Regions from separate parts of the Homo sapiens genome. Here regions 1, 3, 4, 5 and 6 are each reported to be linked to region 2. The links are microRNA targets in miRTarBase. Many come from high-throughput screens and were not tested one by one. Region 2 holds a microRNA gene; each other region holds the end of a gene's coding sequence. Distances are between the middles of the regions.

Region 1 (5,092 bases), 60 Mb from region 2:
CCCACATACCATGCCCAGCCAGCCCCTCAGTCACCTTTTCTCATTTATAAATTTGGAGACCCTCAAAACGCTAAAAATCACAAGCTTTAATCAACTCAGTATCCTGTTAAGTTTCTCTTTCTTGGACCCTATCCCAAGCATCTTTAATTCTCTTAAGTATAAAGTGATTCTGACACAGGTGGTTGACCCCACTTTAGGGAACATTGTCCTAGGACTGTTTAAATATCATTGAAAATCACTGAGTCCACATATTGTGTCCTTAAGGACACTTTTTAAAACATATATATTAACTTTTAGCTTTAAGCAATATGTTAAATGTTCGTATTTCTAAAAGAAGACAAATAAGCCAAAAGGGAGCAAATGTGAATTCCTTTCATCAAGTTTTCTCTGCCTCTTCCTCCAGGATATGCTGTCCCTAATGCAACTGCACCCGTGTCTGCAGCCCAGCTCAAGCAAGCGGTAACCCTTGGACAAGACTTAGCAGCATATACAACCTATGAGGTCTACCCAACTTTTGCAGTGACTGCCCGAGGGGATGGATATGGCACCTTCTGAAGATGCTTTTTTAAATTTAAGAATAAGACACACAAAACTCTATTAAAAAAAAAAAAGAAATAAACCTCTAACTCGGTCCCCAATGATCATAAATAATATGTTTCCTAAAGAAATGCCTTTCCAGAGACTGTATAGCTTATACCAATTATAGAATCATGAAGTAAGAACGTTATTCTGAAATGAAATCAAATGTTAAAGAGCCTTTTGTTTAACAGAAAGCTGGAGAGCCACTGCCCCAAAAGTTGTTCTTCCAGTCTTCCTGAGTGTTTGGGGAGTATGTTTACAAATCCTGCCAGGGTGAAGAGAGATCTTGTAGCTGGCAAGATTTGGGAGGGATGGAGCAGACCTGGGCAGTCAGTAATAATCAAGGGAAGCCAAGTAAACTCCAGAGTCTTACCTCTGGCTCACAGCTGCTTTTGTGATACACAAAGTCACAAAGAGGAAAAGGGAAGGGAGGAGGTTGCTTTTCAAAATGCATTCACCATGGCTCACTGTGTGGGGCATGATTGCAGGCCTGAGCTCATGAAAGACTGTCCAAGATTTTGTGGTTTCAACCTCTCTTCAGCCTGAAAATTCCATCCAGTCGATTTGTCACAGATCAGGATCTTCCTGTCCCCTGCAGCCCATGGGGACTTCCTAGAAATAGATATGATATGTTGTAGATGTGGTTAAAACAAATCCAGGCCCCATTGTTTATTCAGCTCATTAGTCCACACCTATTTTTCCCTAGAACTCCTACCTTTTCCAATAATCATGCCAGCATGAAATGACCTTTTCTACTTTAAAATTTTTTGACTTGTTCATATTGCTTGATTTTCATCATCTCAGACTCATTTTTCTCCTACCTAATATCATAAAAAAGTAAATCAGATATACAGAATATCATTTATGATACTTCTTCCTTTCAGCAAATTGACTGAAAAGTCATTTTAAAGAGAGAAGTGCAGATTTGCTCTCATTTCTTTGATATTGTTGCAGTATCCACCCCACCATCTAGCAATCAGAGATGCTTATATTAACTTGGGATTAGCTTTGCATTATCTAACCCATTTATTTTAAATCTGCCAGGAAATCCTCTAACTTTCCTTCCTTTTTGTTTCAGTAAGTATCAGGCAGCTTCACCATACCTGAGTCCTTTTGTCTTGAAGCTGCCACAGAAAAATCTTACAGCAATCATTGCTGATTAGAAACTGTTTCAGACAATCAGCATGGGTGTTATTTACCAAATTCCCCCCAGAGTCCTAGGCCTCTTCTCCAGAAATATCTGATGATGAAGTGAGGGGAGGGCAACGGTGCTACAAAACACGGAACAGAGGTAAAGAGAAGGCACTACTTTCTTGCCATACTTGTAAATGATTGCTTTGTTCAAACATAAATAATCTTAAGTCCAACACCAAATACCTGTTACTCCTACATCAATCTCATTAGTGGTTTAAGACACAGTACTAGAATTTTCATTTTTTAAAATCCCTTGGCCCTTAAAAAAATTTACAGAACACAAAGGAAAACATAAACACAAAGACATGGAAAATTTTGTCAACTCCTTAATGGAATTCTGTGATCAAAAAGCAGGCCAGATTCTAATCAAAATCAGGTAAATTTTAATCACAATCAGAAGTACTTGTAACATTTCAGTTGTCCTAACTCCAATGAGATAACAAAGCCTCCAAGGCTACAGCTGAAACTCTGAAAGGCCCTGTGCTTTCTACTTTACATTTAGCGTCTAATATTTCCTAGGACAGTAGTTCCCAAAGTAGGCTGTACATTAGAATCTCCTGGAGAGCTTTTTAAATGCTAATGCCAATAACATATCTCATAAAATTTACACTAGAATTTCCTTGGATGGGTGCCTGGCATCAGTATTTTTTAATGATCCCTAGGTGATTTCAATGTGCACCTAGGTTTGGGAATTGCTATATTCTTGTATTTATACTCTATCTCTTTATTTCTTTTCCTTTTTATTTCACTTTTAGTAAATAGAAAAATGCAATTAAAAAATCATCTAAGTTAAGACAAATAGCCAAATCATATTTATCCCATAAATAGTATGAATTTAAATGTAACTTACGTAGGCTTCAAACTAACTCTAAAAATGAGAAAGTAAAACAATCTTGTCCTAAAACAATTCTTAGATCCAAATTTACACTCCCCTACAGATCTGCTTTTATTCTCAAAGACAGTGATTACATTGACATAACAAATGTCCATTGGGGCAGGCAAATTTCTACTGAGTCTAAAAAGCATTCCAAATTCTAGGAGCAAAAGTTCTGATTTTCCTTAAAATCTTTGCAAATAAACAGCAAAGGGTATTCTGGATGTCTTGTCAATGCAAATTAGGTTTGATTTAGAGAAGTTTTAAATTTAATCGCAATGAAAAGATTAGTTAATACATGAATCTTTTTATGAGAAAAAATCATTATTCTGGATAAAGTCATAATTGTTTGTTTACAATATTAAGAGCAGACACCTAAACATACAATAATACCAAAGTATTGAGAAAATTACCACTGGAACACCATCTCAAGTTATCACACCATTTACCTCTTTAGAGCCAGTTTTGTATAAGTAGGTAGAAGTGGTTTTGGTTTTTTTGCTAAAATTTTACTTTGTTTTAGTAATATCTAGGGAATACTTTGAATTCCATTAAAATACCTTCATAGAAAGTGTTAATGTGTCTACCATGCCATATGTTTATTTTTACTTTCCCCAAGTTAGGTAGATAGAGCAAGTCCTGCTACCATAAGTTTAAAATTATTAAGACAACGGGCTTTTTTAAATTGCTGGTAGAACCAAAGGCTAATTTTGCATAGGTTTATATTTTTAGACTTAAGAAATTAGCACCTATATAATACCTTCATACCTTCTGCATCACTATCAATTTTTCTGTAATTTCTTATTTGAATGCTTCCTAATTCTTTACAGAAAAAATTAAAATTTGTCACCCAACCAGGTGATAATAACAAAACAATAATTTAGGAACATCCAGTAAATTTGAATTAGTTCTCTAAATTTTGGTAATTAATAGCTTATTGATAATTAAAATCAGCCTAATGTTGCTTAAGTAGGAGGAAATTGATCAGCAATGGGATTGGGTATCTATTTTCTTTCCTATAAAAGTGCTGCCTCTTCTCAAATTGCTTTATTTCTCTCCCACTGCATTAGTATATCTAGAACAGCACCTTCAACTGCAACAAAATATAATTCTCCTAGATGACTAGGATATCCTCCAATCTGGTATCATGCCAAACAACACTATGTTTGGGGAACAGCACCCGAAATGCTGCTAAAAAGCTACCTCATGTCAAGAAAATATGGATTTCAAAAAATATCTGGCACAGTGGCCCATGCCTATAACCCCAGTACTTTGGGAGGCCAAGGCAGGAGGATTGCTGGAGGCCAGGAGTTCAAGACCAGCCTGGGCAACATGGAGAGACTCCGCCTCTACAAAAAAAAAAAAAACAAATTTAATTTAATTGGCCAGTTGTGGTGGCGTGGGCCTGTGGTCCCAGCTACTTGGGAAGCTAAGGCAGGAGGATTGCTGGAGGCCTGGAGGGCAAGGCTGCAGTGAGCCATGTTCACATCGCTGCACTCCAGCCTGGGTGACAGAGCAAGACCCTGTCTCCAAAAAAGCAAAAATAAATATCTAACAAAAAGGAACCTGTTTCCAAACCACAGTTTCTTAACTTTTTCATGATGGAATAGAAATTAAACTATAAGTATATACTGATAATAGCTGTGCAGGAAATTGGTTTTTATTTTACTTAAAAGTATTTTTTAGAAAAAATGTTATTCTGATTGCATAGATTAGCAAAATATTGCATCAATATAATGTTCCATTTTTATTAATTTTTGTTATATTCTAAATGACCGTTTTATAATTCTGTCTTGGACAACTGGGCCACAGTTAGAATCCACATAGACAGGGAGGTTCTTAGGTGTGCCATTTGTAGAATAAAGGGCAATCAAGTTAATATTCGGGGTAAATTTTCATTGCATTCTAACCTATGAAGTTTGATAAAGTATATTATTATTGAACAACTCTAACACTAAGATTTCCTAAAAGTAACTTACAACAAAAAATGAACTATGTGCTCAATATTCACATAAAGTCATGATTATTCTCTTCTTGCATTCATATAAAAGTTCCCAGGGGGAAGAAAATATATCTAAAAATTAGACTAGAAACTTGGCACTTTTTATGTATTGTAGATACACTTTCATATATTGTAAATACATCTGTTAAAGATAAAACTAAGTTTCTAACATAGCACTACAAGGAAACTTTGGATAAATATTTTTAAAAAGAAAATGTTAATAGGATAACTTAAGATTTTGTATATACTTATTGGAAGACAGGAAGAAACTAGGCAGTAAATATTCCTACCTGACGTGCAACCATTGTCAATCAGGTTTTGTTAAACTGTCAAATTTGATTTTGAAATTTTAGTTTGCCCAAATAATATCTTGAAAATGCTCTGAATTTTACTAGAACATATTCATAGAAAGTGTAATGTATCTACCAGGCTCTATGTTTGTG
Region 2 (5,000 bases):
TGAATTATTCTATTAATATCCAAAATAAATATTCTACTAAATGTCCTGTATAAAATAAGAGAATCAGATTTCTGGTTCAAGATAATAAGGACCAAGCACAATTATTTCATGCTTTTTTTTCTCTTTAAAATCTATTGAAATGGCCAAGATGAACAAGGAGATGTGACCTTAGGAGAAAAAAAACATAGGATATTTAAACTGCATGTTTAAAACATGATGAGGCTGATACAAAAAGGGAACAAAGAATAAAATACAATTCTTAGAGATATGTTTGCCAAATCAAATTTAATGGAAAATTCCATATAACCAAATGAACACAGCCAGAGACCAAAGTGATGATCTCTAGGATAAATTAAAAGTCCCCTAGAATCTAGATCAAAAAGAAATGTATACAAAAGAAGTGAAAAGTTAAAAAGTCATGGCAGATAGGACTAGACGTTCCAGAAGGCCAAATAGTGGTGATAGTTATAAAATATAATTTTATAATGTTTCCCTGAACTTGATAAAAACCCGGATAATAAGACCAAAATTGCTTACCAAGAAGAAATAAATTAAAAAGTTACATTCTGGTGGTAGTTTTAAATATTAGATGTATTTGTTTTGAATAAATAATAAATTCACATGTAATGTTATACAACCTATCTTTACCTGGTTTTTGGTTTCAGGGTAATGCTGGCTACGTATGTTCAATTTTTGGAATAGTTTGTATGAAATTGCATTATTTCTTCCTTTAATATTTGATAAAATTCACCAGTGAAGCCATCCAGGACAGGACTTTTCTTTATGGGAATTTGTTTTAAAGCAATTTCAATTACTTTAATAAATATAGGGCTATTCAGGTTATCACTTTCTTCTTCAGCAAACTTGGTCATATGGGTCTTTCAAGGAATATATTTGTTTTATTTCAATTATCACATTTAAAAGCATTAAGTTGTTCATAACATTCTTATTATTTTAATATCTGTAGAATCTATAGTAATGCCACCTCTCTAATTCCTGATATCAAGAATTTGTATGTTTTCTCTTTTTCTTAATCATTCTGGTTAGAAGTATATCAATTGTGTTGATCCTCTCTTAGTTTTATTGATTTTCCCTATTGTTTCTCTGGTTTTTATTTCATTGATTTCCATTTTGAACTTTATTTCACCAGCTTACTTTGAGTTTTATTTGTTCTTTTTCTAGTTTCTTATGGTGGCAGCTTGAGGTCATTAATTTGAGACCTTTCTATTATTCTCATAAAGACAGTTAGCACTGTAAATTTCCCCTTAAGTACTGCTTCAGCAGCATCCCACAAATTCTGATATGTTGTATTTTCCTTTTAAAAGTTTTTTCTAATTTACCCTTTTGTTTCTTCTGTGATCTATGGCTTTATTAGGTTGGTACAAAAGCAATCGCGGTTTTTGCTATTACTTTTAAAGGCAAAAACTGAGACTACTTTTGCACCAACCTGATAGAAGAATGTTATTTTGTTCCCAAAAGCTTGACAATTTTCCATGATATATTATTGACTTCTAATTTACCTCCATTGTGGTCAAGAACATTCCTGATAGGACTTGAATTCTTTCATCATGGTAAAAGTATTCCATGTGCAGTTTAATGTGTATTCTACTTTTGTTGGGTGGAGTGATCCATAAATATGAATCATGGTACAGATGAGGCAATCAATGAGTTTATTCTACTTTCTGCCGTTTCTGGAGGAGTCTCTTTTTCTTCTTATTTTTGTTAACTGCATTGTCAGCATAGGTAACATACCTTGTTGTACTAATTCCCATTTTTGTTTTAGTCTTAATGTTTATCAGCAGTCCTGTTGCCATAGTTGCCTCAGTCATTTCTTGGTTGGCTGAAGTCAATCTGGTTGGTAGTCATTTGCTCAAAAATGGTTCATGGGAGCAGTATTCTCCTATAGTTCTTGCATGTGTGTAGCTTTTATAATTTAAGAACAATTTAGATAGATACAAAATAATTGGATCAAACTGCCTTTCCTTGAGGATCTCAGTAGAACTTGTTAACAGGTAGTTCTACCTTCTTCTGGAATTGAATGTACAAAAATAAGAGGCCAGTCCATTTTCTTTTTTCCCCATGATAAGTGACTTAGTCATTTTGCTTGGCCAGCCAAAGTATTATTTCTAGATTTCTGAAATTTTAAGAACTATATTTTATTTATCAGTGTTTATTTTTCAGGATCATATTTTCCTAGTATACTCTGGGCCAATTCAACATATAGGTTTAAGTTTTATTTCAGTACAGTGTTCTTCAGTATATTCAGTATATATTCAGGGTATATATGCTTTCTGTTTGCCATATATATTCAGTGTATATTCAGTATAGTGTTCAGTATAGTAAATATGTCACACAGTGACATATTTAGTTTGTGTTGTATGTTTTTACATTAAAATATGTATCTGTAAGTTTGGTTAGTATGAACAACAAACTAATTGGAATGGTAAAGAAGAAAAGAAAGAATAATGCATAATCTCATCATAATCACTTTCAGTGGAATGTCACATAAAAGCACTTTCAAAAAATGACTTTATAAGATCCAAATTCTTAGTCTTAGAAAAACAAAATGTTCAAGGGCTGAGGAAGGCGAGCGCATGGCGCGGGACTGGCAGGCAGCTCCACCTGCAGCCCTGGTGCGGGATCCACTAGGTGAAGCCAGCTGGGCTCCTGAGTCTGGTGGGGACGTGGAGAGTCTTTATGTCTAGCTCAGGGATTGTAAATACACCAATCAGCACCCTGTGTTTAGCTCAAGGTTTGTGAGTGCACCAATGGACACTCTGTATCTAGGTGCTCTGGTGGGGACGTGGAGAACCTTTATGTCTAGCTCAGGGATTGTAAATACACCAATCAGCACCCTGTGTTTAGCTCAAGGTTTGTGAGTGCACCAATCAACACTCTGTATCTAGCTGCTCTGGTGGGGCCTTGGAGAACCTGTGTGTCGAAACTCTGTATCTAACTAATCTGATGGGGACGTGGAGAACCTTTGTATCTAGCTCAGGGATTGTAAACGCACCAATCAGCGCCCTGACAAAACAGGCCACTCGGCTCTACCAATCAGCAGGACGTGGGTGGGGCCAGATAAGAGAATAAAAGCAGGCTGCCGGAGCCAGCATTGGCAACCCACTCGGGTCCCCTTCCACACTGTGGAAGCTTTGTTCTTTCGCTCTTTGCAATAAATCTTGCTACTGCTCAAAAAAAACAAAAACAAAAAACAAAAAAAAACACAACAAAATGTTGCTTTACTCTACTGCAAATCAGACAGGAGAACCAAAATTTAAGATACTTGAAATGTTATCAAGTGATTTTCTTATCCCTCTCATTGATGTTTAGTCACTATGTATATCTTAGGATATTAAACATGCTAGACATTTTATTGTTTCTTGAACATATCAGGTAAATTCTAGCCTTGAGATCTTTGTGCTTCCCATCTCTCTGTTTAGAACTCTTTTCTCCTAAATATCTGTGTAACTTTGCCTGCTCCTTCAACTGATCAGATAGATATATATAGCATGATTTTCATTCGGCCTTCTTCTCTGTCTCAAATAGTCTAACAATATTTTATTATTTAATATTTTTATATATGTGTCTGTATCTCAAACTTGTTAAATAACAGTCAAAGGGGCATGCGATTAAAGTACTGAAATGAATAATCCTGGTAAACAGAGAAAGCATAGGTGGTGATATATGATACAGTCTTCTAGTAAGTAGGATTAGTGTCCTATTGGAGGTAATTCTTCTGTGTTTTAAGTGTGTTTACTAATATGAAAACATTTGATTTTATTATTAATCTCTTGTAGTTTAGATGTTATCCTAGAATAACACATATGCCTCACCTCTAGCTTATTCTATAGGGCCAGATTACAGTATTACAAATTGGAAATCAATGAGAACTGAAACATTAACAACAAGAAAATTTTAAATAACATTGCATTTACTTTTATATGCTTTGATGGTTGTCACCAAGTATAGTACAGCTGTTACTCTGAGTAAATGGCAAAGTAAATTAGTAATATTTATTGAAACTTTTTATGATATTGTAGTCATTTATCGATTACCATGTTTATTAAAATAATTACTTTATCTTTCTCCATCCTTTCCAGTCCTAGTATTTTGATGATGTAGCAGAAGATTGAGGTTTGGTGGGAAACTTTGACGTTTGGGTCTTGGTCTGTTAAAAATTTCAACAGTTTTAATTGACCTTTGAGATTTTCACTCTCATTTATTGAAGATGAAGAATTTACCCTAAGTAGTGGAAACTTAATTGAATTATGGTTCTCCTGATACTTCTCCTTTTTTAAATCCTACTCTAGTTCTGAGAAAGTATAACTTAAAATGAAAAACAAACAGAAAGCCCAACACCTGTTCTGCAGAGTTGATGCTAGTCTGGAAGCAGCTGCCCACTCTCTTTTCCTTGGACTAAAGAATCTTGCCCTAAACTTGTAACTGAAAATCAAATCTTGTATTGTCTTAAAATCACTTCCCAGAAATCACTGTATTTACTTGCCTTTTCCTTTTTTTCTTTTTTCTTATAAGTAGACCAGAATGTTTTTTACTTTTTTCTTTATTTAACATGAACATTCCTGGAGTAACTATCACTCCCCTGTGATAATTACTGCCATTTACTTCCAGGCTGAGAAGCTAGTATCGCTGACAACTCATAGGATGTGAGGAAGAGACAGAAGGAAATGGGTTGGGGATTACCAAGTTGCAGTTAAGTAAGAGAGTGCTTAAATACATATTTATAGTTTCTCTGATTTAACTGTTAGTCTGCCTTGTTGAATAAAAAAAGTATTATTTTATATGAATATTTTCTCATTCAGAAATTAGCTATGAACAGAAGAAAATATTAAGCTTTATTCCAACAGTTATTTTGTTTTAAAGTATGAACCTGATGTTTTTTAAAGCCTTCTGGTACCTCTGGTAGTTTTATGTAATCCAGGGAAGAAACAGTCCGAAGTAGGAAAAAATACTTTACTTTGTATTTCTTCTCAAAATGAGAT
Region 3 (5,076 bases), not on the chromosome of region 2:
TTATTTATTGAGAAATAGTCTATGGAAAGGCCAGAAAAAAATTCAGTCTTCTTCCTTTATTCATACATTTAACTGTAATCACCCACTTCCAAAATAGCCCCAATTGCTGGAGAATAGATAATCTATTGTGATAATCTTTGAATTCTATGTTAAATATATTAGAAAAGAATCTATTCCAGTATGTTTTAGAGAGTGTTGCAGGAACTGTAATATTTTCTTAGAGAAATTTTTTTTTCTTAGGTGCTTTAGTTTCAAAGTTATTGAGATTTGAAGAATGTTTATAAGGATTAAGGTAGTTTTAAAATATTTCTATAGGTGATATAACGATCCATTGTATTTAGCATTTTAATTTCATAAAAGTTATTTTTAATTTTAGGAACAAGAGTTGAATGCTCGAGCCCGGGCCCTCCAAGCTGCATCTGCTTCATGTTCATTTCGGCCCAATGGATTTGATGACAACGACCCACCAGGAAGCTGTGGACCAACTGGTGGAGGGGGTGGAGGAGGATTTAATACAGTTGGCAGACTCGTATTTTGATCCTGAGAGAGTCCAAAATGCACTGGTCACGAAACGTCTAATACTATGACTGTTAAAATGTCAGACTATAACAAATATCTATCTTTTATTTTTCATTAGACCCTTATACTTCAAGAGAACACACTCAGTGCTTGTTTTTATTTTCTTGACACATTTATTAACAAAATGCATCATGGAAAAAAAAATCTACCTCTTAAAATTCCATTTGCTTTTATGGTTAGACATGCTTGACCAAAAATGTTCAGAAGAAAATATGTACCTGGTCCCTAATTAAGCTGCGTTAAATTTGGTAGAAGCATTTAAATGGTCTATCTTCAGTTTTACTGAACAAAAAATGTAATTTATTTAGCATTCTTTATAAAAGAATTGATGCTAGAGGTAAAAAAAAATACTTGTTTTTAAAAAATCCTTTACGTCTTGTGTAATTACCCCATTATTAAATTCAAGTCCTTGAAAATCAACTAGAGATTATAAAGTCTCTAAAGAAGGCAATAACAAAATTTATCAAGATATAGTACTTTTCAGTTTTTGTTTAGTGTCTTCAGCATCACTGTGTCTGTATTTCAAGTACAAATGTTTTTAAAAAGGATTCTTTATACATATGTGCTGAATTGATTTTAAGAAAGTTGCATGATCCTGTAGGAGCAACATTTTTACCTAAAAAATGCTAACTTTATAGTATTTCTAATTGTTCAAGGATTTTAAAATTCTATTTCAGGGAGTATATCTTCTGTGGTTTTGAAGGAGGTGAGTTCTGTATGTGCCTTGCAGTACTGTAATTCAAAAATAGGAATCTTTGGCTGCAAAATTTTAATGAAATGTTAGGAAGTAATTTTCGTGCTAACATTAAAATTATAACTTTTTGAAAGGTAATAGATTTTCCAGAAGTAAAATCTGATGGTTCTAAATCAATCAATGTGATAGTTCATTTTTAACTCTTAGAAGAATTCAGAGGAAATTAACCCAGCTAAGTAAAAAATCTGTCTTGATTTTGTTACTTATTCCTCAGAATATTAAACATTGATCACATATTTTTAGAGTTTTACATTTGGGTTTTTTGTTTGTTTGTTTCAGTCATATGTTTGGCACTGTTGTTTCTATTTTCGTAGTTTTAGATAAAATGTTAAAATGCCAAACCCTACCTTCCTACACTTTTTCTTTTGCCAGGAAACTGGAAACATGTCAGTTCTCCTGGTTCTTGATTATACAGTACTCAAGAGTTATCCCAGTTATCCCCCTTCCTAAAGGTTTTAACTTATCCACAGTTGTGCATTGTTCTGAAGATTGGTCTCATATTTATTTTGAAAACACTTTAAGGAAACAATGTTCTTCGATGATTTGGGGTTTATCTTTTTCCCAAGCTTTTATGACAGTGGTTAAAAAACAGAAATCCTCATGTTTATTCCATTACCTCCCATTCCTAACCTGTTTCCAATCACCAGGAAGATTAGGAAGGCAGATTAGATTAAAAACTGAAAATTCTTTGCAGATTTAATGAAGGTTCTCCTCCTTATAAATGAATGAACCAGTTATCATGCTTTTCTGTGGTTTTCCTATCCCAATAGTGAATTTCTGAGCTATCCTGTGTGTTCAGTTATCCACTTACTTGATAGCAACTTACGACCAGATTATATCAGTCTTGGCATTTATTGAAATTGGTAAAGTGATTTAATACTTGATAGATTGATATTGGGCTAAGATGCTTCTAGGAACTTTCATAAAAGCAATTATACTTGTGCAGCTTTATCTATGAATATCAGGTCTCTCAAGGATTTTATGTATCAAGATAATATGTATTGACTTTTTTAAATGATAAAATGAATTCTAGTTAGAGTCTTTCCTTGGTATCTGCAGTGGATTGGTTCCAGAACACCATCCCCCAATATTAAAATCCACAGATACTCAAGTCCCTTATTTATATAAAATAGCACAGTATTTGCATATAACCTGTGCACATCCTCCCATATACTTTAATCTCCAGATGATTAGATATGATTGCATAGCACTTACGTTGTGCTATGTAGTTGTTATATTGTTTTTTCATTTGTACTATTTTTTATGATATTTATTGGTTTTTTAAATTTTCTATCCAAAGTTGTTTGAATCTAAGGATACAGAGCCTGAGGATATGGAAAGCTGACTAAATATAGTAACACTGAAGAGTATTCAAATGATAACTCATACCAGTACCAAAAACTTGAAGACTTCCTTTTAACATTAAAAATACAGTAACTTTTTACGTGATTTGTTGAATTCAACATATTTGGAACCAGAATAATCAGAAACTTCATTCAAAACCTATGCATCTGAACTTTTTTAGTAAGGTAATACTCAGGACTGTTCTGATTCTAACAGATCCCTGTTAATTACAGATTTATTTGTCATATTAGGTCTTTTCTTTCTCCCATATTCCTAACCCGTGTACTAGCTCCAACTGTTGTGAGGTTTGACTCTGAAGACTGAGTAGAGTACTATTGTTGTTTTTCTTTCCTTAGTCAGAGTAATCAGTTTAAATGAAGTTGCTCATTGCTGCTAAGAAGCATTAGGCTTCACTGCTAGCAAAAATGAAAAACTACAAATCTGAGTCTTTCTTTCAAAGATGTTTATTGACATAATTAAAGTAAAAAATTGTTTAGAGATATGCAAAGAAGGAAATATATATGATGTCACACAAGCTCCAGTAAGCTATCCACTAAGCAGGTGCCTGTGCAACTCTGATTTATGGCATTAACATATCAAATTGAAGGAAGGATTCTAGCTCATTTTCCATTCAAGCATCTTCCCACTGCCTCTCTTCCAGCTAAATAATCAGAGAAGCAGGGCAGTATATCCCTGGAGATCCCTGACTTTTATCTCCATACCTTAAATTGTTGGTAGATCCTTTGGATGTAGAGATAAAAATTCATTATGATGCTAGAGGCATTGGGGGGTCCATGCGAAAGGTTCAAACAGCCTATTACATTAATGCACATGTGGAAAGAACAAAAATTTTCAAGCTAAGTCTTAAGTTCAAATCTATAATTTTTTTCTCTTCAGTTCTGTTCTTTGTATGATAATCCTTAAAAAAGTAGTTGTCTTCTTTTCACATACACCTCTTTAAAGCTATCATCTTATAATAAGTGGAATTGGATGCTTATTGTGTGCCCAGCACAGTTTAGGAAAAAAATAATTGGCACTGTTTGTCCAGTTACTGGAGATCTTCATTTTGATGCTTTGTACTTTGTTCCAGGTCTTTAATTCTCAGTCCATCTTTTCCTATGATTGTGTACTTCACATGATACATTCCATATAAAGAGCTCTTTTAAAATGACTATTTCAAAAATACTGTACATTTATATATAGTATTTTTTCTCATAAAAATGTGATAGTTTATATATCCTTTCATCATACGTTTTTTCTAATGAGTTTAGATTTCTGAAACTAAATATTCCTGAAGTAGAGAAGAGTAAGTTATTCACATTTTACAAAAACATACTAGGAAATGCTAACTGGTTATTATTAGCAACTCAGTAACATCAGAGGAGTAAGGTTAAATCTTAGATAATGCAAACCTGTAACTAAGAAGTGCAACAGTAAGGAAATTTGAATTAAAAGTTGCTATCCCCAAAAAACAAATAATTCTAAAATATAAGCTGTTTCATATGTATATTCTTAAGTTTTATCAAACTGTTATGTATCTTCAGTGTTAGCCTAAGTTAATTTTCTTACAGTCCTTTTTTAGAAGTGAACGAACCTTAAAATGAATGGGGGATTAAAAAAAAACTGCTTTAAAAAACTAGCTTGTTTAAAAAAAAGCTTTCCCATATGAAGAAATTTGTATAGAAATAATTTCTAAAGAAATGAGAATCAAGATTTTTATAAAATCAGCAGTCTAGGTTTCACAAATTCAAAAGGATTTATTATGTAAAACCATTAGCCCCACTGTTACATAACCAGTGTGGACTTAACATTAAAAATAGAATCTAAGAAGTCAGCCAAGTGTATTGCCAGCTCTCGTCAGTGTCTGTTATGACCTGCAGTTGTTTTTCTCTTCATGGAGCTCATGTTTTCATGTTTTGCTTGTGTTGTTGACACACACACACACATCCCTTGATTTCAGAGGGTGAAAAATTTAGCCTTTCCTGGCCAGGTCATCAGTTTTTAACCTTGCATTTCATGTTGAAATCACTTGAGCTTTTTAAAAATCATACCATGCCCAACCCTCATCCCAGACCAATTACATTATGTGGAGACTGGGCATCAACGTTTTTTGAAGTTCCTCACATGATTTTAATGTGCCACCTGGGTTGAGAACTGGACTACAAAAGGAATTTTTTCCCCATAGGTCTTTCATTCAAGGGGATTATTAACATATGTCAAGAGTCTACCGTGTGCTGGACACTGGCAGATATTTATGTGTCTTTTTAACTTATACCAGCCCTGTAAGTGGGCTCATACCCATATCCTCCCTTACCCCTTAATGGACAAAGAAAATAAAGATTCTGATTAAGGAACTTGCTCAACATCGTGCAGCTAGTAAAAATCAGAACTAAGATTTT
Region 4 (5,092 bases), not on the chromosome of region 2:
AATAGCTGTTAAGTATGGGGAACCTGGACTTTCCTCAAGGAAAGCAGTATAAGGAAGTCAGATTTCTACGGGTGAAGAAAAAATAGGTCAAATCAGATTCCTTTTCTTTATTTTTACTTGAGAACTTCACTCTTGAGTCCATGGCTTAAGCTCCGGGTCCTGCACGACAGGAGAGCATCGCTGAAGTGATTACGTGCCTGGCTACTTCCATGTCCTGGAGAGAGACTGTTTGTCAGACAGAAGTTACTTTATTCAACAGTCCCTTTATGTGGAAAGAATGCAGCTTGTCAGGCATAGCATACGTCGTACTCACTCCCCTTTTCTCTTCCAGCTCCAGGCCTGGTGGCGAGGCACTATGATACGGAGAGAAATTGGTGGTTTCAAGATGCCTAAAGACAAAGTTGATAGCAAGGATTCAAAAGGCAAAGGTAAAGGCAAGGATAAGAGGAGAGGCAAGAAGAAGTGACCAAGTTCTCTTTTGTGTTTTCTGCTGGTATTCTGGAGGTGGGAAGGACTTGGAGAGAGTTAAGAAACACCTGGTACCTCAAAGATGACTCATCTACAGGTTGTTTCCTATTGAGACTTTCCCAGGGAAGCCTGATTTCACTTTGCCTGTTAATTTCACTCTGCCTGTTAGGTGGGTTTTCAAACCCTGATTTAGGATTACACCATTGACTTAGGGCTTCCTCATACCTTGCTGGGAAGAAGTTTCTAGTAGTCCTGTGAAGATTCATTCTTCTTGCTCTTTCTCAGCAGAACAAAGGAGTTCACTGGCTTAGCTACAGTGACGCATTGAAACTTGAGTAATTCCTGTAATGTCAGATTTTGATTTTACCCAATTTGTCTGTAGTGAAAAAACTCTTATGAGCAAAAGTATTCAGTAGGAATTACAATATGATGTTATTAGCTGTCCAGCATAATATATACACAGCAAAGTTTTAATAAATGTTGGTTCCTGCCTGCCTTTTAGATTTATCGTCACTTTGGTGTTTTTATTCAGGTGAAAATGGCATGGAATACATATCCAGTTGTAAGCTGCTTCAGCAACTTTTCTAGGAAACAGGGATACAAATTATAAATACAAGCTAGAAATAGGATGTTAGGATATACAACTTTACAAACTATAAAGATGGGGACACAGGTTCTCTGGAAGGCTAGTTTGGAGATATTTTTGACAAGTGAAACACTAGAGCCACCAATCCCCACTTTATGGAGTGTTAAGATGAAAAGAAATCAGGTGTGTGAAAATATCTAACTTGTGCCTGGCAAATAGGAAAGCTGTCACTCTCCCTCTTCTCCTAGAAAAAAAATGCACCCACCAGATCATGCTTGCCTTGATGAGTCAAAACAATGCCTTGGGATGCTAAAGGTTTCCAAGAGCAAAGTTGTCCTAATGTGTCACATACATTTCATGAATTAAGCCTTCTATCTAACTCCAAATAAAGCTCAGTCTTGATATCTGTACTTCCTTAAAAAATGAATTTGATCTCAAAAGTTTGTCCCGAAGCCCCCATTTCCACTGACATTCCCTCTGGAAATGAGATGCTCTTTCCTTGATTCACCTTTGCCAAGGGAACCACACCTCAGGTATGAACACGCTCCAATCAGCTTTTATTACACGCCACTGAAGTGTTGGCTTTTATTTGAATGTCAATGTGTAAAGTGGCGTACAGGCAATTTAAAATAACATACATGATACTGACATATTTATACTTAGAACTTATGCAATATATTTACAGACAAAAATACAGGACAATGTTTTACAAAATCTTTCACTAATTACATGTTTACAACATTTTCAGAAATAAAACGAAATTTGCTGTAAACCATCTCAACTGCACTGTGTATATAGAAAGGCTTCTAAATATCCATGTTTTCATTTCTATAACCATTTAAGCGCTTAGTTTTTACGAATTCATCAAACTCATTCGCATAGTCACACATCATTAGTCACTGCTGAGCTGTAGAAAGTAAGAGAAATCGCAAACTCCTTGATTAGCTGTATTTTAAAAAGCTCTTCAGAAAAGTGATCTACTACTATGCTCTGTGTTCTAGCAGAATACAAAGGCCCCTCTTTCCATGGGTCGTTTCCAGACCTGGCTATTACAAGAGAACACTGGAGTGCTAAACACAGATTATGAGTCTGAAATACTGGGAAACTGCTGACAGAAAATCTCTGTACGTGGCAAGGGCTCTGCTGGGGGTGGCTCTCAACCCGACACTGTCAGTGATGGGAAGGGCTCTGCTAGGGGGGGCTCTCAGCCCCAGACACTGTCAGTGATGGGAAGGGCTCTGCTGGGGGGCTCTCAGCCCCAGACACTGTCAGTGATGGGAAGGGCTCTGCTGGGGGGCTCTCAGCCCCCAACACTGTCAGTGATGGGAAGGGCTCTGCTAGGGGGGGCTCTCAGCCCCAGACACTGTCAGTGATGGGAAGGGCTCTGCTAGGGGGGCTCTCAGCCCCCAACACTGTCAGTGATGGGAAGGGCTCTGCTGGGGGGCTCTCAGCCGCCAACACTGTTCAGTGATGGGAAGGGCTCTGCTGGGGGGCTCTCAGCCCCCAACACTGTCAGTGATGGGAAGGGCTCTGCTGGGGGGCTCTCAGCCGCCAACACTGTTCAGTGATGGGAAGGGCTCTGCTGGGGGAGCTCTCAGCTGCCGACACACTGTCAGTGATGGGAAGGGCTCTGCTGGGGGGCTCTCAACCCCCAACACTGTCAGTGATGGGAAGGGCTCTGCTTCAGGTCAGGGGAGCTGTGACAAGGTCATCTTCATCTTACACTGGAGTCAAGCAAAGCTAAATGTTAAACCGAATTGTGCTTTCCAATTTAAAAAAAAAAAGGTACATACAAAATACTGAATACAAAAATTCTCCCAACAAAAGCATCATGATTTGTTTTTGCATCTTGACATAAAAAAGAAATTCATACCTTCCTACCTCTGCAGAGGGTTTGAAAAAAGAGAAAAAAAATTCAAAGCATTTGATATTTTTCCTTCAATTATCAGCCAAAACTGCACATGGTTTTTCCTAACAATTCAAATACAAATCTGATTTAGTTTGATAAAAATACATTAATAAGGTTTCATAATATGTGCAAAATTTGAAATAAGTTGAAATTTCCATTTATCCCTATGGGAAAATTAGTTGCAAATGTTGCAAGTATTGCATTATGTAATGTCTTCTAGAATTATTCCTTGCATAGTATATTTTTGGTTTGGTGGGTTTTTTTTTTTTTTTTTTTTTGAGACAGAGTCTCGCTCTGTTGCCCAGGCTGGAGTGCAGTGGCACAATCTCAGCCCACTGCAACCTTCGGCTTCCAGGTTGAAGCGATTCTTGTGCCTCAGCCACCCAAGTAGCTGGGATTACAGGTGCCCACCACCACGCCCAGCTAATTTTTGTATTTTTAGTAGAGACAAGGTTTCACCATGTTGGCCAGGCTGGCTTGCGTATGTTAAAAACAATCCTGTCCTTTGCTGAATTTCATTTCTGGTGGCATATAATTTGGAGACTGTACTGAGGCTTAATGTTGACAAACACAGTTTAAAAATGCACATGGCTAAATTCTAAACAAGTTATATAAGGGTATATAAGAGTTGGTGGGTCTGTTGGGAACTGTAAATATAATGGGGTCTTACATAAAGACATTTTACTTTTGTTCTATAAGATTGGGCATTGAAGTTAGATGTTGTACAATTTATTTTTAGAGATGGGGTCTCACTCTGTTGCCCAGGCTGGAGTGCAGTGGTGCAGCCATGGCTCACTGTAGCCTCAACCTCCCAGGCTCAAGTGATCCTCCCACCCCAGCCTCCTGAGTAGCTGGGAGTACAGGCAGGTGCCACCACACCTGGTTTTTTTTTTTTTTTTTTAATTTTTGGGAGACAGGGTCTTGCTATGTTGCCCAGGCTGCTCTCAAACTCCTGGGCTCAAGTGATCCTCTTGCCTCGGCCTCCCAAAGTGCTGGGATTATAGGCATGAGCCACCATGCCCAGCCTGTTATACAATTTTAAACCTGGTCAAGTGGTAATGTTCTGATGAATTTGTTTCTCTGCAAGAACAAGGAAGAAAACATTACTTTGACCAGGTATTCAACATGATTTGATCCAAAGCTACTTTTAGATGCTACATTTACCTGATAAAAAGAGGGATAACATTATGCCCAAATGGATGCATTGTAAAGAAAATCCAGAACAGTTAACAACTACAGAAACAAAAGAGATATCTTCCGCTTACTTTATTTACTTGTTTTACAAAGGCAGTGAACACCAAAGGATATCACCAACAACTAAAAGGAGTTCAAAATGCAGGGGAAGGAAAACTAGCTGAAACTTGAGTAAAGGCTCCTGTGCGGTGTGAGCCCTTGGGCCCTTTTCCTCCACCCATCATTGAGTATATAAAGGCGCTTGTGGTGGAGCGAGATGGGGCGCGTTTTCTTTTTTTGAGATGGAATTTCGCTTTTGTTGCCCAGGCTGGGGTGCAATGGCACGATCTTGGCTCACCACAACCTCCGCCTCCTGGGTTCAAGCAATTCTCCTGCCTCAGCCTCCCGAGTAGCTGGGATTACAGGCATGCACCACCACGCCCAGCTAATTTTGTATTTTTAGTAGAGACGGGGTTTCTCCATGTTGGTCAGGCTGGTCTCAAACTCCCAACTTCAGGTGATCTGCCCGCCTCAGCCTCCCAAAGTGCTGAGATTACAGGTGTGAGCCACCACACCCAGCTAGGAAGATGCTGTAAGTGCTTAAATTCAGCCACAGAAACTGGCAGTTACCTGAAAGAAATACAAGAAACTAGGCTTTTCCGAGCTAGAAGTGTATGTGCTGTAACTGCAATGTGTCTGCAGGCCCAGATGTCTGAGGAGCAGCAGGAGGGCGGGGAGGGAGGCTCAGTGAGACCAAGTGCGCTATCAGCTTCAGAATTTGGAAACTCTGTATAGAGAGAGGGCTTGTTGTTGATAATGTCTAGATAACGGGGTTTGGAACCTGTGTATAGAGGGCTTGTTGTTTATTATAATGTCCAGATAACAGGATGACATAGAACTATCTTCTATGATGGTATGACTGCAGTTGAAGGGAGGCCTAGAATACTGACCTTAAA
Region 5 (5,092 bases), not on the chromosome of region 2:
GATGAGAATGGCAGAAGGAGGAGTCACCAGTGAAGAGTATCTTGCATTTTTACAGCAGCCTTCAGAAAACATGGATGATACCGGTTTCTTCTCCATTCAGGTAATAAGCAATGCCTTGAAGTTCTGGGGTTTAGAGATCATCCATTTCAATAATCCTGAATATCAGAAGCTCGGCATTGATCCTATAAATGAAAGATCTTTTATATGTAATTATAAACAACACTGGTTTACTATTAGAAAATTTGGAAAACACTGGTTTAACTTGAATTCTCTCTTGGCGGGTCCAGAATTAATATCAGATACATGCCTTGCAAATTTCTTGGCTCGATTACAACAACAAGCATATTCTGTATTTGTTGTCAAGGGTGATCTGCCAGACTGTGAAGCTGACCAACTCCTGCAGATCATCAGTGTCGAAGAGATGGATACACCAAAACTTAATGGAAAAAAATTAGTAAAACAAAAAGAGCATAGAGTCTATAAAACAGTCCTTGAAAAAGTATCAGAAGAAAGTGATGAGTCTGGAACATCAGACCAAGATGAGGAGGATTTTCAGAGGGCCCTTGAACTAAGCCGCCAAGAAACCAATAGAGAAGATGAACATCTCCGCAGTACTATTGAGTTAAGCATGCAAGGTAGTTCCGGAAACACATCGCAAGATCTTCCAAAGACATCATGTGTAACTCCTGCTTCAGAACAGCCGAAGAAAATAAAAGAAGACTATTTTGAAAAGCATCAGCAGGAACAGAAGCAGCAGCAACAACAGTCAGATCTGCCGGGCCACAGTTCATACCTACACGAAAGGCCAACAACAAGTTCGAGAGCAATTGAGAGTGATCTCAGTGATGACATCAGTGAAGGCACAGTACAGGCCGCTGTCGACACCATTTTAGAAATTATGAGAAAGAATTTGAAAATCAAAGGGGAAAAATAATGCCTTTAAAAATAATTTAGATAGTCATACTTTCCAACATTATCCTGTGTGATTATACTGTAGGATCCATTTTGGTCATCTGTCAAAGAGATGAGGAAATAAGGCTTTTAGACAGTTTGCAAACAAAATGACGAGAGAGATGTGGGACTAAATAATGATCGTTCAACTACTAGCCAAGGAGACATTCAGCAATTAATTAAATTTAAATTAGCTTTCAAAATGTTCCTTTGATTTTTGAGCCTGCAATATCTAATGTGTCTAAAATTGGGTCATTTTTCATGGATCTTTTTGTATACCAACGAATTAGCTCTTGCCATAGAACTTTTTCCATATAGTCTCTTCTATTGTAGATAATGTGGCTCATTTTGGTTGCTTTTATTTCTCATGAAACAATTTAACCTTTCAGGGAAGTGTCTCTTGTCTGTGTTGATCATAGTAACGGTTTTAGAAGGATAAACAGTTCTCCCTCCAACTATGTACTGTGCGCTTAAGTATATTCTTATGTTATTTCCTCTGATCACAATTTCTGCTACCTGGTCCTTAATTATTTTCCACAAGTCTTTCGAAATATGGTAATATTTTCTGAGGTTTTGTTTTTTACGCCCTCTGTGGTAAGATCATTATTTCATGACTCTGGTGCATTACTCTTTCTTTGTTTGGGGGTGGGGTGATGGGGGCAAAGACGCTCTGTCGCCCAGTCTGGACTGCAGTGGCCCAACCTCGGCTCACTGCAACATCTGCCTTCTGGGTTCAAGTGATTCTCGTGCCTCAGCCTCCCGACTAGCTGGGACTACAGGCATGTACAAGGACGCCCGGCTAAATTTTGTACTTTTAGTAGAGACAGGGTTTCACTATGTTGGCCAGGCTGGTCTCGAACTCCTGACCTAAAGTGATCTGCCCGCCTCGGCCTCCGAAAGTGTAGGGATTAAAGCGTGAGTCACTGGGCCAACCGCTGGTGCATTCTTATACTCTGAAATCAGCCCTGCACAAATATTTGAGAATGAGCGACTTTTTAAATGGGAAAAAAAAAAGGTAACATCAAGATTTCAGGATATATTATTGCTTATCTAGGTATCTAAAAAATCATATGGTCTGTAATATGTTTAAGGACCACATCATGTCTTACCTGGGTATCAAGAAATCCCATGTTTGCGCCTACTGTTAAATTCATCATCACCTATTGACTACAACCTGCAAAATCCCATGGTTAGGGACACCGTGATCACTTATTTAGAAATCCCCAAAATCTAATCATGTCTACTTGGTTAAAGCCCACATTATTTCTTTCCTCAATTCTTGCGAAATCCTATATTCATAAGAGCGGTTAAGATTGTCTTCATTATGTTGCTGGAATTTGCAAAAAAACCATGGTGACAACCATAATTAGACACACACCACCTGTTACCAAGATATGGGCACTACTCGTGGGCATTACCACGGCTTAGGCCAACATCATTCCCTACTGGGTATCTTCAAAAACTTATATTCACCAGAGCTTTAAGTGAGATACTTGTAAAATACCTTGGCACTTGGTTACAATTTGTGACACATCATCTCTCATGTGGATGCCTACAGAAGCCCAGGAGATCAACCAGATATAGAAATACCTACCAGACATGGAGACCTACAAATTAACCAAATTAAATGCCATTGCTAAGGACACATCATTTCTTTCCTGGGTGACTGAAAAACTGTTAAATACCTTGGGACTACCATTTCTAGTGACACATTATTACTTAACTGGTTATCTGCAAAATCCCGTGGTCACCACATGTTTAGACATTTTTAGAGACACCATCATATCTTCTCTGGCAGCTTGCAAAATCAGATGTGTAGAAGACACATGTGTAGAAGGACATGGGGTTTTCCACCAGCACTCCTACAAATAACCTTGATTTCCATCTTTTGGGGACACACCCACTCGACCTGGATACTTGCAGTAATCTCAGGTCGACCCTGATAGCAGAAAACCACCGTTTCTCGACTGTTCACCTGTAGACATCCTAGGGGCAGCACGGGGGCGGGGAATACAGTGATAAATACCTGACTCCCTGCAATCCCTCTACACTCACAGGTTTCAGCATACACTTTTGTTGAAACAGAAAATGGGAAAACCTGGCCAATCTGGGATTGGTAAGGACTCAATCATTTCTCAGCTGAGTACCTGTGAAAGAAATCACGGCGGGAAGACGTGTGGGGACATCTCATCAGTGAACCAGGTCCCTGGGACAGTCCCATGGTGCATGCTGTGGTTTATGCGTGCATCAGCAATACCTCAGCCAGACTCTCAAAAAAAGAAAAAAAACTATGAAAACACAGAAAAAAATGGTCATAAATCCAACAAATACATAAAGCCAGAGCTCTTAGCTGGACACTTATAAAATACTTTGGTTACGGTAGTGGCAGTTACTTACAATTTATGACATATCATCTCTCATGCGGATGCCTACAGAAGCCCATGAGATCTATCAGATTTAGAAAAACCTACCATACATGGAGACCTACAAATTACCCAGATTAAATGCCATTGCTAGGGACATACCATTTCTTTCCTGGGTAACTGCTGAATACCTTGGTACTACAATTTCTAGGAACACATTATTCCTTAATTGGATATCTGCAAAATCCCACGGTCACCACATTTTTAGAGACACAATCATCTCTTACCTGGTGATTTGCAAAATTCCTTGTTCAGTATCACGGTTAGGATCTCTGTGATCTCTTAATTACTGGCTTACAAAATTTCATCATAACTTTCATGGTTAAGGGGACCACCATCTTTTTACTAGACCCCTGACAATCTCATGATCTCATGGTTATTTTGTGATTAGGTTCGCCATCATATCTGGAATACCACAAAATGTCATATTCACTAACATGGGAAGCGGCATCATCAGCTCCTTCATGCCTACCTGAGCAAACTCAATTTTGGTAGTCAAGTTAGGGTCACCATCCTCACTTATCTCGATATCTAGAAAATATCATGGTCACCCCCATGGTGAAGTTTATCATCATTTCTTAACTCTGTAACTTCAGTATTCTATGTTCACTTCCTAAGCAGAAACATTCATTTGTTACCTGGATATTTTAAAAATTTCAGACATTACCATGGAGATGGTCATTGTCATCTTTTCATTCTATAGCTAAAAAATCCCATGGGCACTACCATGGTCAGGGACGGGCCCATCATCTGTTTTTGCATTCCTTCAAAATACCATGGTCACTACAATGATGAGAGCCATGATCATCTCGTACCTGAATCACTACCAAATCCGAGAGTCCATAAATCGCCTGGAGAGACCTCAATGTTGTCCTCATGCTCTGACTTCTGCCTGCCTGAACCTGAAACTGCAAGTGTGATCAATGGCTCAACAGACACAGCTTTTCCATCAGGATCCTGCAAACCGCCTTGCTCAGTATAATCACTGTGGGAGTCAAAAATGTATTTGGATGCTTGCAGGCCCTCCAGGGTCTAGGCCATTGTAGGACACACTATTTTTCCCTGGCCAGTTTCCCTGCAAATCCACCACAGTTACTCCTGTGATGCACAATGCCACATGAGTTCCCTGGGTATGTGACAATCAATCAGCCCTCACAGACCACATACATCATACATTCTTTCCAGGGTAGAAATCAATAGGATCACATGGCGAGGAGAACGGAGAGCCGCTACCCTTTCTTACCAAAATACCTGTTAACCCATCACATGATAAACCCTTCAGGCAAAGGAACCTTGCTTACCTAGGTATGTGGAGATCGCCTGGTGTGTGGTGAGTTTACCATGAACACCATCACTTACCCAGATAGCAGACGTGTTCCCTGATCCTGACTCCTGTTTATCGGGATTTCCTTGTGGGACCCTGGAAAACCTACACTGAGATATATGCCTCAGAAACACACAAAGTGTTCTAACAGGACACATGCAAATCACAATGCTCGCATCCATCGTTGAAGGACTCTTACTTGGATGCTGGTGGGACCCCCTAAGCTCAGGGCTGCAGGCCCAGAAAACAGCATTTCTCTCTACAAGACACCTGCAAAATGTCCAGCGTAATCGCTGTGGCTGGGAACCCCAAGATCATTACCTGGTATTTGCAGTCCCACTGTGCTCACTGGGTTAGACATTGTCTCTGAAATATGCAGAGGGAAATCTCACGG
Region 6 (5,092 bases), not on the chromosome of region 2:
GAAACTCCATCTCTAAATAAAGAAATAAAAGAGAACTCTGGGGCACCATGTGAGGGGAACTCCAAGGAGAGTCTTGGGTAGAGACGGAGCGAGGAGCACAGGCAGGATGCTGCGCCTTCCAGGAAAGGTCAGTAAGATGTCCCCACTGGCAATGTGATTCTGGGACCATCGAGAATGGGTTATTTGCTTTGCTGCGTGCAAACTCCTCTCATCGCTGCAATCTTTTAGGGAAGCTGCTCACACAAAGGCCTTCTTGCAGAATCAAGGAGAAGGTACCCATTTCCTCTGCCACTCTTCTCTGCCCCCAGCCTTCTTCCCTTTCCTCTCAGGAGACTCCACGTTCCTCGAGGGCTTTGCCTTGCTGTTCCCTCTGCCTTGACCACTCTTGCTCCAGATCCTAGCCGTCACTTCCTCTCCTCGTTCAGGTCCCCGCTCTGATGTCATCTCCTCTGTGAGGCCTTGCCTGACTGCAAACTACACACCAACACTCCCTCTCCCCTTGTCTGCTTTGCTTATTTTCCTAGCACTTATCTCTTTCTAATATGTTAGGTATTTTCCTTACGTATTGTCTATTCTTTGCTAGAGTGTAAGCTCCATGAGAGCAGGGATTTGGGTCTTTTTGTTGTTCCTGCTATATCCCAAGAGCCTCACTGAGATCCTGGCACATTGCAAGCATTCCTTCAATTCATACTGGTTGAATGGGCCGGGCGCGGTGGCTCATGCCTGGAATCCCAGCACTTTGGGAGGCCAAGGCAGGCGGATCATGAGGTCAGGAGTTCGAGACCAGCCTGTCCAATATGGTGAAACTCCGTCTCTACTAAAAATACAAAAATTAGCTGGGCGTGGTGGCACGCACCTGTAGTCACAGCTACTCAGGAGGCTGAGGCAGAATTGCTTGAACCTAGGAGGCAGAGGTTGCAGTGAGCCGAGATCGCGCCACTGCACTCCAGCCTGGGCGATGCAGTGAGACTCGTCTCAAAACACACAAACAAACAAACAAAAACCTGTTGCCCAGGCTGGAGTACAGTGGTTCCATCTCAGCTCACTGCCACCTCCACCTCCCGGGTTCAAGCAATTCTCCTGCCTCAGGAGGCCAGGTTGGTCTCAAACTCCTGACCTCAAATGATCCACCCACCTCGGCCTCCCAAAGCGCCGGGTTGAATGAAGGAAGGATGAATGGAGAACTGGCGGAAGCTCTTGTCTAGAGCCAGCATTAGCTTTTCCCATAATTGGCAGATATTTCCTGGAGGTCACTGGACTTCCCTCAGGATGTGAGCTGAGGGCACAAACCAGTCCTGGTTACCTCTCAAAAGGTCAGAGTAGGCTGGGCACGGTGGCTCACGCCTGTCATCCCACCACTTTGGAGTGACCACTTTGAGATCGTGCCATTGCACTCCAGCCTGGGCGACAGACTCTGTCACAAAAAAACAAACAAACAAACAAAAAAAGGCGGACGTCTGGGTAATGTCTGTGATGTCATTCTCGCGTGCATTCTGGTTTGCTAGAGAAAGGAATGTCGACACAGTTATAAAGCATGTAATTGCACTTAATACCTATCTTATCTATCAGCTTCTTGGAGGCATCGTTACTGCTGATAAAGTGGACGAATAATTGTGGTTTCATTTTTCCTCGGGAAAATTAATCATGGAGAGAGGTGTCAAAATGTAGGTGTGCGTACAGGATCGTGTCAAGCCCAAAACACCACGTTGCGTGGTATCTCCTTGTTTGAGAATCTCTGCCCCAGGTTTCAAATCTAAGCTCCTCAGGCAGCTGGCCTGACCCCGGGCCAAACCTGTTCTTGCCTCTAAGCTCCACATGCACCGTTCCCTCCACCCACAGCGCGCCGCCCTCTTGGAAAAACTCACAGCCATCTGCTGACGACGAGCTCCGTGGTTGCAGCTTGAAGCACTTTCTTTTTTTTTTTTGCTCTGTCGCCCAGGCTGGAGGGCAGTGGCATAATCTCGGCTCACTGTAACCTTCGCCTCCGGGGTTCAAGGGATTCTCCTGCCTCAGCCTTCCGAGTAGCTGGGATTACAGGCACACGCCACCCTGCCTGGCTAATTTTTGTATTTTTAGTAGAGATGGGGTTTCACCGTGTTGGCCAGGCTGGTCTTGAACTCCTGACCTCAGGTGATCCACCTGCCTCAGCCTCCCAAAGTGCTGGGACTACAGGCGTGAGCCACCGCGCCCGGCCCACTCATTCTCTTTCTTGTGGAGGCGACACTGATTTCATTTTGGCGAGTCATCTCCTCCCACTCTTGGTTCTGTGGTTTCCGGTGTGGGTTCCGGTGTGCCCCTGGTAGCTCTGTCTCCAGGGGCAGGCACTCGATCCAGGCCTGACCAATCAGAATCTATTCCTCTCCCTGGCTACAGTGATTGGGTCAGGGTGGATGCCTCATTCAAGGTGCTGCACTGAGAATCCGCTCTGAGACTTCCACATTTTGGGAAAGAGGCACTTCCTCTTTCTGCCTCCAATGCTGAACTGACAGAATGAAAGCCTGGAGCTGTGGGTGGCTGTTGCTGCCACCCCACCTCCAGGTGAGAATCTGCTTGGGAAAGAAGCCACTGTAGAGGAAGGTTCAGCCAGGCGATGGTTCCAGACACATTCCTGACAGTGTGTGAGCACCTGGAAGTAGCCTTACTCTGGGACTAAGGTGCTAATGCTTATAAATATCCTTTTTTTGGCCCAAGCCAGTTTGGACTGGGTTTGTCACTTGCAACAGAATTTGAACGAGAGGTGTCCGGGCACGGTGGCTCATGCCTGTCACCCCAGCACTTTGGGAGGCCGAGGTGGGAGGCATCACCCAAGGTCAGGAGTTCGAGACCAGCCTGGCCAACACGGTGAAACCCAATCTCTACTAAAAATACAAAAATTAGCCAGGCGTGGTGGCGCATGATGTAGTCCCAGCTACTCAGGAGGTTGAGGCAGGAGAATCACTTGAACCTGGGAGGTGGAGGTCGCAGTGAGCCAAGATCACACCACTACACTCCAGCCTGGGTGACAAGAACGAGACTGTCTCGAGAAAAACCTGCAACACGAGGCCCTTGGTTGCCTTCCGGGGCCCTCTTCGTTTCCTAATATTCATAAGGAGACCACATTGGCAAACACGTATTGCTTTATTTAGTGTTTCTCTGGATTGCAGAAGTGTCAGCAGTGGGCTGAGACCCCCAGAAGGGCATAGAGGCAGCTGGGCAGCCCCCAGGCCCTTGAGGGTAGGAGCAGGGAGAAGCAGCAGAAGGAGGTGATGCCCCTGCCGCTCCTCCCAAGGCCAGCCCCGTCCCCACGCTCCCATGCCAGGGAGGGGTCAGGGGCCAGAAAAGGCCCTACATCCTTGAGTGGGGCCCGAGTGTGCGGGCAAGCTGTCTGTCATCCCAAGGCCTGGACTCTGGCAGAGGCGCTTTTCCCACCTGGTGGCTCCCAGGGCCGATTGCTGGTCAAGGAGCCAGATATACTCTTAAGACATGATGTGGGTTTTATGGGGCTCCCTGGCTCTGGGAGTGGCAGTGAGGCACGCTGAGGAAGGGCTGCCATCTTGGTTTTGTGGCAACCTGCCGTATGACCGTGGGCAAGTGCCTTCTCCTGTTTGGGCATCTGTCTTCTGCTCTGTAACATCAAGGGGCTGGGCTGGATGATCTCTCAGCGTCTTCCAACCTCTATGGTCTAAGACGGCCTTCCCCACTCCAGCACTGCCTCAAACTGGGATGATGAGGACAGTAAAAGGGCGTTCTTTTTTTTTTTTTTTAAGACGGAGTCTCGCTCTGTTGCCCAGGCTGGAGTGCAGTGGTGTACTCTTGGCTCACTGCAACCTCCACTTCCCGGGTTCAAGTGATTCTCCTGCCTCAGCCTCCCGAGTAGCTGGGATTAGAGGCGTGCACCACCATGCCCGGCTAATTTTGTATTTTTACTAGAGGCGGAGTTTCTCCATGTAGGTCAGGTTGGTCTCGAAATCCTGACCTCAGGTTATCTGCCCGTCTCCGCCTCCCAAAGTGCTGGGGTTACAGGCGTGAGCCACCATGCCCAGCCTAAAAGGACATTCTTAAGGCAGAAAGAAGGGGGCAGGCAAGGGTGGTCTCAGCCCCCAGATGGAAGTCAGAGTGGGCTGCAAAAGATGCAGATGGGCAGGCAGGGAGACAGGTAAACAGACAGAAAGACAAGGTGCCAAGGGAATCAGGAGGAGAGGTGTCCTGGCCAGGGAAGAGGGCACCAGAGCCCAGCCCACACAACCTCTCGGCTACATTCCTTGCCCTGCTGGAGTCAGGGAAAACACATCCACTGTGTCCTTGGGTGGGAAATGGCTTTTTTTAAAAAATAGTTTCCTATAAAGCATCAAAAAAACCTCAGAGAAAACCTCAGCAAAAGTTCCCTTCTCTCAAATATTTGGCATCGGCAGTAGGGCTGGCATGGCTCGCTCTGGCCCTGGCTTTCCTATTGCTGTGGCCCGGCCTGGCCCACTCCTGGGGTAGCTCCTGGCCCCTGCTGCTCCCTCAAGAGAGGGATGGGCAGGAGGTGGGAGATTGCAGGTGGGCTTCGGGGTGTCCCTGGGTCCCTGTCTGGAAGTTCGAGTCTTTGGTAACTGGGAAGGGGAGGAGGAGAAAAGCAAAGCATTGGGCGTTGGGAGGGTCCAGTGGGCGCCTTTATCACCGAGAATTCAGCCGTGGGGCGACCTGTGGGGGCGGAGAGAGACGGCCAAGTGGTGAGGGGAGCAGACGGGGGCCCCGGTACTCAGACTTTTCTTTTCGTCCTTGTTTTTTCCTTTTTATGGAGAATGGGGTCTCGCTATATTGTCCAGGCTGGTCTTGGACTCCTGGGCTCAAGCTGTCCTCCCACCTCTGCTTCCCTAAGAGTTGGGATTACAGGCGTGAGCCGCCGCACCCAGCCCCAGCGCTCAGATTCATGGGTTCGATGCAGGCAGGAGTGGTGGGGGCCTAGTGGTCTCCATCCTGGAGACTCAGACCTGACTCCCATAGGAATGCCCACCGCCCTGGCCAGCGTGAGCCTGTGAGCCTGTCCTCCCTCCTGGCACCCCCAATCAGCCTATGTATCTTCCCTGCATTGCCGTGCTGCCTTTTTTTTTTTTTTTTTTTTTTTGAG

The links. The annotated mature microRNA hsa-miR-548e-5p reads CAAAAGCAAUCGCGGUUUUUGC and lies in region 2 at 1,383-1,404, shown strand. An mRNA with a match to its seed (bases 2 to 7 or 8) in the 3' UTR can be bound and repressed. Matches are read on the target gene's strand: a 7mer-m8 pairs with bases 2 to 8, a 7mer-A1 pairs with bases 2 to 7 and ends in A, and an 8mer does both.
Region 1: the mRNA of A1CF is a reported target of hsa-miR-548e-5p. Seed matches in the 3' UTR shown: 7mer-m8 at 559-565, 7mer-m8 at 967-973, 7mer-m8 at 1,017-1,023 and 8mer at 2,715-2,722.
Region 3: the mRNA of USP38 is a reported target of hsa-miR-548e-5p. Seed matches in the 3' UTR shown: 8mer at 745-752, 7mer-A1 at 1,899-1,905 and 7mer-m8 at 2,074-2,080.
Region 4: miRTarBase lists DRC9 as a target of hsa-miR-548e-5p. The part of its 3' UTR that is shown has no 7-base or 8-base seed match.
Region 5: the mRNA of ATXN3L is a reported target of hsa-miR-548e-5p. Seed matches in the 3' UTR shown: 7mer-A1 at 1,038-1,044.
Region 6: miRTarBase lists MYO1C as a target of hsa-miR-548e-5p. Seed matches in the 3' UTR shown: 7mer-m8 at 4,594-4,600.

What each region holds. Positions count from the first base shown.
Region 1 is chr10:50,802,192-50,807,283 of GRCh38, reverse strand. A1CF (APOBEC1 complementation factor) reads left to right here. Exons shown (of 13, transcript NM_014576.4): 13 at 404-5,092. The coding sequence ends at 555. Among named protein-coding and RNA genes, the nearest start is that of ASAH2B, 65 kb to the right of the region's middle.
Region 2 is chr10:110,987,558-110,992,557 of GRCh38, forward strand. MIR548E (microRNA 548e) reads left to right here and starts at 1,369; the gene lies at 1,369-1,456. The region is part of intron 3 of SHOC2 (SHOC2 leucine rich repeat scaffold protein); the gene reads left to right.
Region 3 is chr4:143,219,919-143,224,994 of GRCh38, forward strand. USP38 (ubiquitin specific peptidase 38) reads left to right here. Exons shown (of 10, transcript NM_032557.6): 10 at 377-3,956. The coding sequence ends at 538. Among named protein-coding and RNA genes, the nearest start is that of USP38, 38 kb to the left of the region's middle.
Region 4 is chr3:197,884,954-197,890,045 of GRCh38, reverse strand. It overlaps DRC9 (dynein regulatory complex subunit 9), which reads left to right. Exons shown (of 12, transcript NM_032263.5): 12 at 332-969. The coding sequence ends at 466. LRCH3 (leucine rich repeats and calponin homology domain containing 3) reads right to left here. Exons shown (of 21, transcript NM_001365715.1): 21 at 1,610-5,092. Among named protein-coding and RNA genes, the nearest start is that of RPL35A, 63 kb to the left of the region's middle.
Region 5 is chrX:13,314,709-13,319,800 of GRCh38, reverse strand. It overlaps ATXN3L (ataxin 3 like), which reads left to right. Exons shown (of 1, transcript NM_001135995.2): 1 at 1-1,154. The coding sequence ends at 934. GS1-600G8.3 (unknown transcript) reads right to left here. Exons shown (of 17, transcript NR_046087.1): 12 at 4,734-4,803; 13 at 4,190-4,276; 14 at 3,099-3,239; 15 at 965-1,013; 16 at 308-793; 17 at 1-182. Among named protein-coding and RNA genes, the nearest start is that of ATXN3L, 2.8 kb to the left of the region's middle.
Region 6 is chr17:1,461,088-1,466,179 of GRCh38, forward strand. It overlaps MYO1C (myosin IC), which reads right to left. Exons shown (of 32, transcript NM_001080779.2): 32 at 3,099-4,665. The coding sequence ends at 4,639. Among named protein-coding and RNA genes, the nearest start is that of CRK, 7.4 kb to the left of the region's middle. RefSeq lists enhancers at 1,909-1,988, 2,118-2,937.